Homo sapiens: one gene and its partners. The protein of the gene in region 1 interacts with the protein of each later gene in a pairwise test. Each region holds a gene or a part of one and is shown in the gene's direction. Other genes may lie near its edges.

Evidence for each region.
Region 2: the proteins of PPP1R12C (region 1) and ATXN7 interact in a two-hybrid assay, tested with the Homo sapiens proteins (one study listed by BioGRID and IntAct).
Region 3: the proteins of PPP1R12C (region 1) and TSFM interact in a two-hybrid assay, tested with the Homo sapiens proteins (one large-scale study listed by BioGRID and IntAct).
Region 4: the proteins of PPP1R12C (region 1) and CACNA1A interact in a two-hybrid assay, tested with the Homo sapiens proteins (one study listed by BioGRID and IntAct).

What each region holds. Positions count from the first base shown.
Region 1 is NC_000019.10:55,097,138-55,100,637, reverse strand, and holds part of PPP1R12C (protein phosphatase 1 regulatory subunit 12C), read left to right. Parts: intron 1-1,542; coding exon 1,543-1,687; intron 1,688-1,779; coding exon 1,780-1,854; intron 1,855-3,500. UniProt on the Homo sapiens protein: Regulates myosin phosphatase activity.
Region 2 is NC_000003.12:63,870,367-63,873,866, forward strand, and holds part of ATXN7 (ataxin-7), read left to right. Parts: intron 1-3,500. UniProt on the Homo sapiens protein: Acts as a component of the SAGA (aka STAGA) transcription coactivator-HAT complex. Mediates the interaction of SAGA complex with the CRX and is involved in CRX-dependent gene activation.
Region 3 is NC_000012.12:57,795,437-57,798,087, forward strand, and holds the end of TSFM (elongation factor Ts, mitochondrial isoform 2 precursor), read left to right. Parts: intron 1-740; coding exon 741-1,147; 3' UTR 1,148-2,151; downstream 2,152-2,651. Other genes in the region: AVIL (advillin), read right to left, coding at 2,446-2,559. UniProt on the Homo sapiens protein: Associates with the EF-Tu.GDP complex and induces the exchange of GDP to GTP. It remains bound to the aminoacyl-tRNA.EF-Tu.GTP complex up to the GTP hydrolysis stage on the ribosome.
Region 4 is NC_000019.10:13,293,480-13,296,979, reverse strand, and holds part of CACNA1A (voltage-dependent P/Q-type calcium channel subunit alpha-1A), read left to right. Parts: intron 1-3,500.

The sequences.
Region 1 (3,500 bases):
CCGTCTCAAAACAAAACCAAACCAAAACAAAACAAAAAAACATTTGTTGCAGAGTAGAGGTATATGTTTATTTGATGATACTCATTCGATGCTTATTTTTGAGCCCCTGCTGTGTGCCAGGCAGTCTGTTAGGTGCCAGGGAAATGGGTAAACAAGACAGATCTGGGCCTGTGTGCGGCTCATAGCCTCGTGGGGAGACAGACATTTTGGGCTGATCGCTCTTGCTGCGGGGCCGTCCCATGCATCACAGGATGTGGGGCAGCCTCCCTGGCCTCCACCTATGGGATGTTGGGAGCATCCCTGGTTGTGAGAACCAAAAATGTCTCTGGACGTGGCCAAATGTCCCCTGGGGGGCAGCATTGCCCCAGTTGAGAACTGCTGGCTTAAGATATAAATAGGGTTATGGGAGAAGACAAGTGTGATGAGGAGGGGCTTTGGGGTCAGGAGACAGGGGGATGAGGGGGTGGTGACTGCCAAAAAGGGGCTCAGCGTGAGATGCTGCAGGGCACAGAACACTGCCCGGCTGAGAGCAGCAAGTGCAGAGGCCAGCGGCGAGCGGACGCTTGGGGAAATAGCGAGGGCCCAGCACAGCTGGGGCAGGGTGAGCTCCGGGCAAAGCGTGGGAAAGGTGAAGGGCAAGGTGGGCGGGACCAGAGAGAGGGACTTGTGCTTATAAGGCCTCTTTGTAGAATATCCCAGGCTGTCCATCTGTTCCCACTTTGTGAAGCTCTTTCTCATTGACACAGAAACTCATTCCAGTTCTCCAAAAATAGACACGTCCTACCGTTAAGCTGAGCTTGGAGAGTGGCCTTGGACTTGTAACCCTGCCTTTGCCCTCAGATTGAATGGTTTAAGGTGGTTATTGTTTTCTCGCAGAACACTGTCTCGGGTGAGGGTTTCTCAGCCTGGGCGCTGGCAGCATGTTGGGTCAGGTCCCTCTCCTTGTGGGGCTGCTGCTGAGCGCTCTGAGCGCAGCCGGGTGTGGAGCAGCCTCCCTGGCCTCCACCCAGCCGATGCCGCTAACCCTTGCCCTAAGTTATGACAACAAAGATGTCTGCAGACCTGCCGGGTCTCCCCTGGGGGACAGCATTGCCCTGGTTGGGAGTCACTGCTTTAAGCCAGCCCGGGTCCTAGAGCACTACTGCCCTGAGACAGCCCTTTGGGGGTCCCATCCTTCTGACAGGCATGGGGGCTGGCAAGGGTCCTGCACTTGCATCCTCCGGAGCTGCCTCCTTACACCCCGCTGCTGCCACCTTGGAATCCCACAGCCAGGGTGACCCCCTGCCAGCACCAGGAGCAGGTTCCAGAGGCCACCTGCAGGGTCAGGGTTTAACATGTAACTGCTGGTCCAAGGGGAGGGACAAGGCCTGGTGCAGAGGGGCCTCTTGTGGCAGCGGATGCTGGGCAGTGGCTCTTTACCAGCCTGTCCAGGGACGTTTCAGTCTCGTGGCCTGGGACCTCGTTACCAAACCGCTGGCCGAAATCAGCCCTCGGCCAAGGGCCCCGCCTTGGCCTCTGACCCTGAGCCTCCCTGGCCCCCAGGTTGCTCCTTCAGGCTGGCTACGACCCAGAGCTCCGGGACGGGGACGGCTGGACTCCCCTGCACGCAGCGGCACACTGGGGCGTGGAGGATGCCTGCCGCCTGCTGGCCGAGCATGGCGGGGGCATGGACTCACTGACCCATGCGGTGAGGGCCAGTGCCCAGGCTGGTGAGGGGCAGGGCGTGGGGAGGGCCCAGCACCTCCTTCATTGTCTGATCCTGCTCCTCCCCTGACCCAGGGGCAGCGTCCCTGTGACCTGGCCGATGAGGAAGTACTGAGCCTGTTGGAGGAACTGGCCCGGAAACAGGAGGACGTGAGTGTCAGGGCTGAGGGGCTTACCCCAGACTCCCCATGTCCCCTCAGCTCCTCAGAGGAGGGTGCAGAGGGGGAACCCCCCCGACTTCTGACACCCACCACCCCAGCGACCTGCTATTTCCCTCTTGGTGACCCAGCCCCAGCCCCAGCCTCAGGAGAGACCCCCAGCCGGGGCAGGACAGAGATGGGGCTGCAGAGCTTCCTGCCTGCCTGGTGGTGGGGGCGGCAGAAGGATTTGGACAGGGTTGTCTGACACCCTGATGAGGTTGCTTAGCACACCTCATCACCTCAGGGTGGCCCTTGGCAGCAGCCATGTGCAGGATTGTCCTAGACTCAGGCTGGGCTGGTCACCCACAAGGTGTCCCCCAGCCATCCCCGGGGCAGCCTTGCTGGGAAAACTTAGAGTGAAGGAGTGAAGGGCGTGAGCCTTGGCCAGACTGCCTGGGTTGGAATCCCGGCTCTGCCATGGATCTGCCGTGAGTCTCAGCCAGCCACTTTCCTTTCCGGGCCTCAGTTTCCTTATCTGTCAAATGGGAATGGTATGGTGCGCAACTGTATGAGGGGTCATGCGTGACACGTGGATTGTGCTGTCAGGAGCTCGGGGGAGTACGTGCCCCTGGAAAGCACTAGAGCCATGCCAGCGTTCAGTGAGCTCTGTGAGGTGACAGGAAGCTCCCAAGGCCAGGCCTAGGGCTTCTGGTGCGTGGGCAGGGGAGCGGAGACAGCTTCCTCTTTTGAAAGGTTGGCAGGAGCGAAGTGGAGGCTGATGGATGTAGGAGAAGATCTCACACAGGCTGGGGGGCAAGTGTGGGTGCCCTGAGGTGCCCAGGGAGGGGAGCGTAAGGCAGGGCAGACCCGGGAGGGCCACGAGTGCCAGGCGAGGAGCATGGTGGCTTCCATCCTGAGGGTGATACGGCCATGAGGGGTTTAATAGGTGGGGCAGGGTCAGCTCAGGGGGCCCAGATATGGGGGGAGACCAGCCTGGGAGCATCTGGGGACACTTTCTGGAAGACGTGAGTACTACAGCACTAAGAGTTTGCTAGAAGGGCAGGAATGAAGGGCCCTCCCAGTACAAAGGTGTGAAGACGGTGGTGAACTGCGCGGGGAAGGGGCGAAGACGGTGGTGAACTGCGGGGAAGGGGTGAAGACGGTGGTGAACTGCGCGGGGAAGGGGCGAAGACGGTGGTGAACTGCGCGGGGAAGGGGTGAAGACGGTGGTGAACTGCGTGGGGAAGGGGCGAAGACGGTGGTGAACTGCGAACTGTGCGGGGTAGGGGTGAAGACGGTGGTGAACTGCGCGGGGAAGGTGTGAAGACGGTGGTGAACTGCGCGGAGAAGGGGCGAAGACGGTGGTGAACTGCGGGGAAGGGGTGAAGACGGTGGTGAACTGCAGGGAAGGGGTGAAGACGGTGAACTGCGGGGAAGGGGCGAAGACGGTGGTGAACTGCAGGGAAGGGGTGAAGACGGTGGTGAACTGCGTGGGGAAGGGGTGAAGACGGTGGTGAACTGCGAACTGCGCGGGGTAGGGGTGAAGACGGTGGTGAACTGCGCGGGGAAGGTGTGAAGACGGTGGTGAACTGCGCGGAGAAGGGGTGAAGACGGTGGTGAACTGCAGGGAAGGGGTGAAGACGGTGGTGAACTGCG
Region 2 (3,500 bases), on another chromosome or scaffold:
GCATTGCCAAGCAACCACCCCCAACATGTGCACACACACGTATGTGTGTGTGTGCTCACACACTGCTGTTTTATTTAGCATACTCTGCTTTTGGTATGGCAGTTTGATCTAATGCCTCATCTCTTTGGATAGGATGAAACTTCAGTCAATAAGTTTTTATTAGTCATATTGTGTGGCCGCCTTAGCACATGCATGATTCTGTCACCAATTAATTTTATTTATTGTTAAGTGTTCTCACCTTGCCCATTTTTTTATAGAGCTTGATGATTGGACCCTCTCAGATGTGATGGTTTTTGAAGGGAATCAGTGCTTTTGGAGCTGTCTTTTGCTTAATGTTCCTATTAATCCTTCTTTGCCGTGGAAGGGAAGTAATTAATACTGGCCTCTCAAGCTGCTAACTAGACATTCTTTCCTAAAGGAAATCTGTATCCTGGCCTTCCCTATTCCCTTTCTGCATGATATGTTTGGCTTTATAAAGCACACAAAAATTCCTCTTGTGTTCTAACCCCTGGAGATTAGCTCTAGGATTGGTGTGTACAGAGCATGTAGATATATATGTCTGTGTGTAATTTCATCCGGCCATCACTGAAGCTCTGAGGGCTGCTTCTTTTAGTTTCACCTTTTCACTCCCTCTACCTTTCTCTCCTGGCCATTGTGTAAGGATGCAGATTTGGTGACCTGATAACTGCTCTAACTGATTGGTTTATTTTTTGCTTCGTTTCCTGCTTTTCAACATTCTCTACTGATTTGCTTATTTTGCAGCAAGTACACTCTTTTTGGAGTTTACCTTTTCAAAACAACATTGTGCTGAAAATAAAACCACTAGAGATTATTTGGGTATTGTAGGATTTTTCCCCCTCCAAATGTACAGTAAATACAGTATAAGAGGCATGACTCAGTATTTTAGATATAGAATGCAATTTAAAAAATTGTTTGCCATTTTATATATAGATATTAGAGGTGTAAAATGTGTTCTTACTTTTAGCATTTAAGGGTTTCCTTCTTGTTAAAAAAAGTAAATTTGCTACGTATCTTTTGGATAACAGTTTGGGCAATATGAACCCAAAGTCATTACAAAAAAAGAAAAAAAGGTAAATTCACATCTAGGAATTTAAAGAAACAGTTGGTGAAGTATGCACAGATGTATGTACCAGATTGCTCACCTGTCCTTTTTTTATAACAAAACATAGAAAGTGATCTAAATACCTATGGATAGGGGATTAAGTGAATTAGGGCCTATCCATGTAGTGGAATATGCTGCAATCTTTAAAAAGAATGATGCAGTCAATATTTATTCATAGAAAAAAAGGTATATAATGAGACTATGTATAAGATGGAACTTTTAGAATAGGGTTTTAGTCATCTTTGAAGTATATGGAAGAAAATGCCAGGAGCAAGAATTGTTACAGGGGAGAATCTGTTTTAATTATTAAATTATAATCTAAAACTATAATTTTGATTATTAAACATTATTATAATCTGGTTTGTTTTTAAATTTAAAAAAAAAACAGATTATAATTTAATGCTTTAATTATCAATTAAATTGTTCCTTTTTTTTCCTTAGCCAGTTACCTTCAAATTCAACTCACCTTTATTTGCACCTGCATCTTTGTGGTTTAACTATGATAATTTTAGCAAATTTTCACTTCAGTTATTTTGGCTTTGGAGTATGTTCTATCTCCTATGCCCCACATTCTGGTGGAGATACAGTTCATTGTTTATATGAAATTAGCAACATTGATCTAGCCTTGACGAATGAGAAACGTAACCACATCTGGCTGTGACATAGTGACTCTTTGTGGACTTTGGGCCTTAGAGTTTGTTATAGGAAACTTTAGGACGTGAATACACTATAAAATATAGAAATATTACGATAATTCATGAAGCATGTCTGTCAGTTATCTATTGTTAACAACCCATTCCAAAAGTTTGTGGCTTAAAACACATACCATTTTATTTGCTCATAATTAGGGCAGAGCAGTTCTCCATTGGTAGTGCCTGGCCTGAGGTCACTAATGTGGCTGCAGTCCTCTTAAGTCTTGAGTCAGAACTAGTTAGTCAAGCTGGGCTATCTCTCTGAGCTCCACATAATCTCATCTTCTAGCAGCCTAGATCAAATTTCCTCAGGTGGAGGCACTTTGTTCCAGGAGGGTGAGAACTGCAAGGTTTCTGGAGGCTTAAGCTTAAGAGTCACACAGTACCACTCTGCCATATTCTGCTAGTCAAAGCAAGTCACAAGGCCAACTCAAATTTTAGGAGTTGGACAAAGATACCCCCTCTTGATGGCAAATGCTGCCAAGTCATATTGCACAGGATAGCCTACAGGGAATTGTTGCAGCCATCAACATATGTGCCAACCTGCTTTTGTTATAGTAACTAAACTCTGTTTGTTTGCCATGATTGATAAAACTCTGTTCTGAGGAACAGTGCTAAATGGTTTCCTGTGTTACCTCTTGGGATAACAGCTCTACATGTAGGTAGTATTATCCCATTTTAAAGGTATGAAAAGTGAGCCTTAGAAAGGTTAAGTAACCTGCCCTAGAGCTTTTATCTAGTTAGGGACAGATCTTAAAAGTTAAGGAAAATTTATGTCTATACCAGTGTTTCTTAATCCCATCACTAAAGAACTTGCATGGGGGAGGGAGAGAGGAAGGGTGGGAAGTGGGAGGAAGCGTAGTTTTTAAAATCTCAAAATCCATTATCTTAAAATTTTACATGAATTTTGTATTCTACTCTATAATATATCCCTTTTCAATGTGAAATTCATGGTTTAATTACTTGCCAATCAAATTAAATTTTATCCCCCCAATTTTTAAGAAAATGCAATTCTTCTAGACACAGTATAACAGCTAATCAGCCAGAGATCTTTGGTTGTAAGCAGTAAGAACTAAATCTGACTACTTTAAACATAAAGAGATTACTGGAGGGATGTGGTGACAACAATGCCAAAGAATCAGGCTTCAGAGTGAACCAGATCTAGAGCAGCTTCAGGGATCCAGGTAGCAGGACTCAGTAGACAGTCTTCTCAGGATACAGGAGGGCCAACCTCTCCAGCAGTTTTTAATCCCACTTTCTACTGAGAGTATATCTTTCAGGCCCATACTGGGTCCCAGCAGGTGCCTTGGTTATTGCCTCACTCAGCCAGTACCCTTTAGGGGAGTTGTCATTCCCCAGAAGTGGGAATTGATGGAGGGCAGGTAAAACCAACAGATATTTACTATCTGAACATTTGTGGGCCACTATGAGTGGACTTGGTTTAGACATTGTATCACATATAAGCGACACCATAATGATCCCTGGTTCACCCGTCTCCTTCCCAACCCTACATCTAAGGGTTTTGTTTTGTTTTGTGTTTGAAACAAGCTGTCCTTCTGTCACCTAGGCTGGAGCGCAGTGGCACAATCGTGGCTTACTGCAGCGTTGACCTCCTGGCCTCAAGCAGTCCTCCCACTGCAGCTTCTCAAGAAGCCGGGGATACAGGTGTGTGCCACCAAACCTGG
Region 3 (2,651 bases), on another chromosome or scaffold:
GAAAGGTAGGTGGTGTCATCTCTATTTTAAAGGTGAGGAAACAAAGGCTTGATAAATTTAGTAAATGAGATTATGTCATTGAGTCACTTGCCCGAGGTCATATAGTCAGTAAATAGGCAGAACTGAGACCTGAGTCACACATACTTGTGTCACCACAACCTATACAACCTATGTTTGTTGTTTTTTTTGTTTTTTTTGTTTTTGGAGAGAGTCTTGTTCCCAGGATGGACTGCAATGGTACGATCTCGGCTCACTGCAACCTCCGCTTCCTGGGTTCAAGTGATTCTCCTGCCTCAGCCTCCTGATTAGTTGGGATTACAGGTGCACACCACCACGCCCAGCTGATTTTTGTATTTTTAGTAGAAACAGGGTTTCATCCATGTTGGCCAGGCTGGTCTTGAATTCCTGACCTCAGGTGATCTACCCGCTTCAGCCTCCCAAAGTGCTGGGATTACAGACGTGAGCCACTACACCCGGCCTGTTTTTAAGTACCAGAGTGCCTGGCACATAGTTGGTGCTTCATAAAGGTATTCTTCACTTCCCCCACTCCCGCTCTCCTGCCCCATACCCCTTTTCCTCTTTCTACAAAAACTGAAAATGGTATCTCTTCATCTTACTGCATATCCTATGTAAATGCAAAGGGACTGTCTTCCAAACTGGGCCTCTTCTGTGCATATTTTGGTACCATCACAGACATCACAATTTGTTGGTGTGTTGGTTTTTTGTTTTTGCTTTAATAGGAAAACTGGGAGAAAACATGATTCTTAAACGAGCTGCATGGGTGAAGGTGCCATCTGGGTTCTACGTTGGCTCTTATGTCCACGGAGCAATGCAGAGTCCCTCACTTCACAAGCTGGTGCTGGGGAAGTATGGGGCCCTGGTCATCTGTGAGACGTCTGAACAGAAAACAAACCTTGAAGACGTTGGCCGCCGCCTTGGGCAGCATGTGGTGGGCATGGCCCCCCTCTCTGTTGGCTCCCTGGACGATGAGCCTGGGGGAGAGGCAGAGACTAAGATGCTGTCCCAGCCGTATTTGCTGGATCCCTCCATTACCTTGGGGCAGTATGTGCAGCCTCAGGGGGTGTCGGTAGTAGACTTTGTGCGGTTTGAATGTGGAGAAGGTGAAGAGGCAGCAGAAACTGAATAGGTTCCAGAGACTTTTGGCCCAGGAGGAATATTTACTTTTAGCTCTGGACATCATTACAAAAAGGAATATTTCCCAAACCTCTTCAGACCGAGAATGCATGGGTAAAATTATTAAATAGTTGTATAATAAAAATAATTTTTTCCTTGTTTGCGTAATACTGGATTTAGCTTTTCTGTGCCTTTCAAAAACAACAGGTGGGCCTTATTGACGTGATAGTGTCGTGGAGAACAGGCATCAACAATACTGCTGCTCCCTTCAACATAGATTTATTATGGTATTTCTGAAATTTCTAACTTATATGTTCTGTCTTACACCTTTTATGACATAGAACTCTTTTGTTCTGTTTTTGCTTTGCGACACTGTGAACCGTGCTTCTGCCTCGGAACCTCCCTAGTTATATTACTTGTGCCACATGGATTTCTTTAGGATTATTGATTCAAACCTAGAGTTGTCTGGAAAATGTGGGTTCTCTTCTTTGTGATTGTCTGTAGTATGCTTTGAAGGTGCTCTGCAGTGGTAGACACACTGGTTCTGGCCTCATTTAATGAAATTAATAACACATGCCCCTATTTCTCTTTTGGATGATGTGTGGGTGGGTGGGTACTGAGGTTTCCTGGCCAGCTGTAAGGCAGATTTTGACATTCTTGTGCCAGAAACAGAAATTAGAGTAGTCCAGTTACCCAGAGAGCTCACTTAACATTGCCTCTTTACTTCCCCAGTACTGAAACATTTCTTCAAGTATAACATAAAATTACCGTAACAAGCAGACCCAGAATACTGAAAATAACTCCATTTGTTCATTATAGGTATCTTTATTTGAAAAGTGAAAAATGCTTTGACACATTACAGATCTGGGTATTTGGATTTTGCCTATGGAGTGCATATATGATTTCAATGATTTACAGGCTAAATAGATTTTAGAAATAATCATCTTAAAATTGAAAACAAAGGTAGGTCCTGGTATAATATTAAACATAAAGTTATTAAACATTTTAAGCATTGTTTTTTGGTTCTCTTTCTTTTGATTTCTCCAGATTTATGCAGTTTTAGTGCTTTCTGCTGAGGCTTTAGCTAGAGGGCCACAAAACCCAAAAACTATATGGTTAACATTTTAGGTATATAACAAGCAAGGAATGCAAGGATGAGAAAAAATGGAGAACATGCCGTGATTTGCAGACTCTATTATATCTAAATTAAGTAGCTGAATGTCAGGCAGAAATTGGTGGATAAATTATTTCCTGATATTGGCACTATCTGCTCTTTTCTGTGGCCTTGCAATAGGTATAGGCCTTCTTGCTTTAGAAAAGCCCCTTTTCTTTCTTCATTTGGAGCTGTTTCCAGCCAGGCAGAGCTGCAAATTGCCCTCTTGTGATGCCAAACACAGACACAAAGTCCTGTTCAGAGAGGTAATTCTAAGAGAGAAAACAAAGTTTCTAGTTAGAAGGAAGACATGACATCATTGCCAACAGAAGTTGAGGAAGTTGGAGCAAGAGGGAGTTCTAGG
Region 4 (3,500 bases), about 42 Mb from region 1:
GGAGACCAGTCTGGGCAATAGAGGCAGACCCCATCTCTATAAAATATAAAAAATTAAACAGATGTGGTGGCATGCACCTGCAGTCCCAACTACTTGGGAGGCTGAGGCAGGAGGGTCACTGGAGCCCAGGATGTCTAGGCTATGATGAGCTATGATTGCACCACTGCACTTCAGCCTGGGCGACAGAGCAAGGCTTTGTCTCAAAAAATAAAATAAAAAATAAAGAAAAAGAAAAGGCACTTTGGGCCGTTAGAATTGAAGGGAGAGCAGAGTTTCAAAGCTTTGGATGCAGCGGGATGTGGTGGCTCATGCCTGTAGTCCCAGCACTTTGGGAGGCCAAGGTGGGAGGATCCACTTGAGCCCCGGAGTTCAAGACCAGCCTGCGCAACATAGTGAGACCTCACCTTTTAAAAATAAATAAAAATGTTAGAAAGCTTTTGAGGCATCTTCCAGGCCAGCAACTTATCCATTCAGAACCAGCATCCTCTTTTTCATAACGACATTTTGTAATACTTTCTAGCAGATGCTATAGTGATTCTGCATATAGGGACTCAACAACTTACCCATTAAAATAGACATCGTAGACATTGTCCTATTACAAATTAACCTGCTCTTAGTCCTCTTTTATATTACCATCAGGGCATAATATTGATTTTTTTAATGATGGGTTTAAGTGATCCTGTTGTATGACATATGAGGTAGGCCAGCACTTCTCAAAATCTAATGTGTATGTGAATCCCCAGGGATCTTGTTAAAACACAAATTGTAATTCCGTAGGGCTAAGGACTCAGTGGAGCCTGAGATTCTGCATTTGCAACGAGCTCCCAGATGAGGCTGATACTACTGGTCCAGGGACCACATTTTGAGTAATGAGACTCTGGAGGACATAGTGAAGTAATTCTGATATGTACACCATACACAAAATCACCATGAAGTGACAGGCACAAATGATGGCTAACTCTGGGTTGTGTGGACAATTCAAACCACATGAGGGGAGTTGCCAGCAGTGTCAAGATGTTCCACAATGTTGAACACCTCTTGGCAAAGTTCCATATACAAAAGAGTCTAGTCTTTCTTCCATTTATTTAATAGTTGCATTGCAGGAAAATGCAATGTATATTAAAAACATACAAAAAATATGTTGTGTTCTTATGTAAAAGAGTTAGGTTTAAACTAAAAGCACAGGATCAGGTGCAGTGGCTCCCACCTGTAATCCCAGTGCATTGGGAGGCTGAGGAAGGAGAATCGCTTGAGGCCAGGAGTTCGAGACCAACCTGGGCGACATAAGGAGACCTCGATCTCTACAAAAGAAGTTTTTTAATTAGCCAGGTGTGGCGGCAGGTGCCTGTAGTTCTAGCTACTTGGAAGGCTGAAGCAGGAGGATTGCTTGAGCCCAGGAGTTCAAGATTACAGTGAGCTATGATTATGCCATTGCATTCCAACCTGGGCAACAGAACAAGTCCTTGTCTCAAAAAAAAAAAAAAGAAAGAAAGAAAGAAAAAACCCAAACAAACAAGCAAACTAAAAGCACAGGTAATTACAAGCAAGATTTTTCACCTCTTTGAGGGACATTAGAAAGTCATGAAGAGGAAAAGATAAGTCTTTCCCATATGGGACTGTCATGTACATGGTAGGGTATTTAGTATAACTGCCTACCATTCTCTAAGTGCCTGCAGTGCCCCTCAATCATTATGTTATTAGGTTTCCACGTAGTTCTACAACAGTTTTCTGAAAACCATTGTTCTAGGTCATTCTTTCGCTTCAATCTTCTCCTATGGGTTTATGCATTCATTCAGTTAGTATTTACTAAGTGCCTACTATATTCTAAGCTCATGCTGTGAGTTCAGTCACACAACTGCAAGTGAAGTGGTCTGAGACATTCTGAGAAATACGACCAAGAAACTGCTCCCAGGGTCTCAGGGCAGGTTTCCAGAGGAGCAATCTGAGAAGGGAGTAGAGTGTTTCAGTCTAACAACAGCATGTGCAAAGGCCCTGGGGTGGACCAGAAGGAGGCCAGTTTGCAGGACATGACTAGTGACGAGAAAGTGACAAAGAAATTGAAGGTGCATTGATGAGACTCTGGGGCTGTCAGTCACTCAGGGGAATGAGAGATCAAAACGGGAGTTTAGGTGGAATAAAGTGTTTACCACAGCACTCTCTGTATAGTAAAGACCAATGAAGAGCCAGGTACAGGCCAGTGTGATGGTTCACGCCTGTAATCCCAGCACTTTGGGAGGCAGAGACAGGTGGATCACCTGAGGTCAGGGGTTCAGAACCAGCTTGGCCAACATGGCAAAACCCTGTCTCTACTAAAAATACAAAAAATTAGCCAGGCGTGGTGGTGGACGCCTATAATCCCAGCTACTCAGGAGGCTGAGGCACAAGAATTGTCCTGCGAGGCAGAGGTTACAGTGAGCTGAGATCACACCACTGCACTCCAGCCTGGGCAACAGAACAAGACTCTGTCTCAAAAAAAAAAAAAAAAAAAAAAAGCCAGGTACAGTGGTATGCACCTGTAATCCCAGCTACTCAGGAGGCTGAGGCAAAGGATTGCTTGAGCCCAGGAGTTCGAGACCAGCCTGAGCATTTAGAGAATGGGAGGCCAGTATACTAAATACCCTACCATGTACAAGACAGTCTCATATGGAAAAGAATTATCCTTTCCTCTTCATGACTTTCTAGTGCTCCTCACACAGGTGAAAAATCTTGCTTATAATTATCTGTGCCTTTAGTTTGTTGGTTTATTTAGGGTTTTGTTTGTTTTTTTTTTTTTTTTGAGGCAGGGTCTTGCTCTGTTGCCCAGGTTGGATTGCAGTAGCATTGCTCATTTTAGAGATGAGCAAGACCTCATGTCTAAAAAAAAAAGAAAGACCAATGATTATTAATTACTCTTGCTATTATTACTAATATTACTGTTATTATCAGCCTTATTAACAGATCTACTGTTATTGAAGGAGGCAGAGTGACAGGGACAAAATGTCTCTCCCTAACAATATGCCAGGAAGAGTTTTTGAAAGACAACAGTAAACATTGGAAACTACAAGAGCAGCAAAGCCTGGTTGTGAAAGGCAAGGACTTTGGGGCAGGCAGTCACATTCCTGCCCTATCACTTCCAGGCTGTGTGACTTTCAGAATTTCACTCCTCTCTGGGCCTCCATTTCCTCATCTATAAAATGAAGATAAGAATAGTAGCTACCTCCTTCTCTGGGTATAAGATTTAACTGAGCCGGGCGCGGTGGCTCATGCCTGTAATCCCAGCACTTTGGGAGGCCGAGGTGAGCGGATCACAAGGTCATGAGTTCAAGACCATCCTGGCTAATATGGTGAAACCCCATCTCTACTAAAAATACCAAAAAAAAAAAAAATTAGCCGGGCGTAGGTGGTGCACGCCTGTAGTCCCAGCTACTCGGGAGGCTGAGGTAGGAGAATGGTGTAAAACCCGGGAGGCGGAGCTTGCAGTGAGCCGAGATCGCACCACTGCACTCCAGCCGGGGAGACAG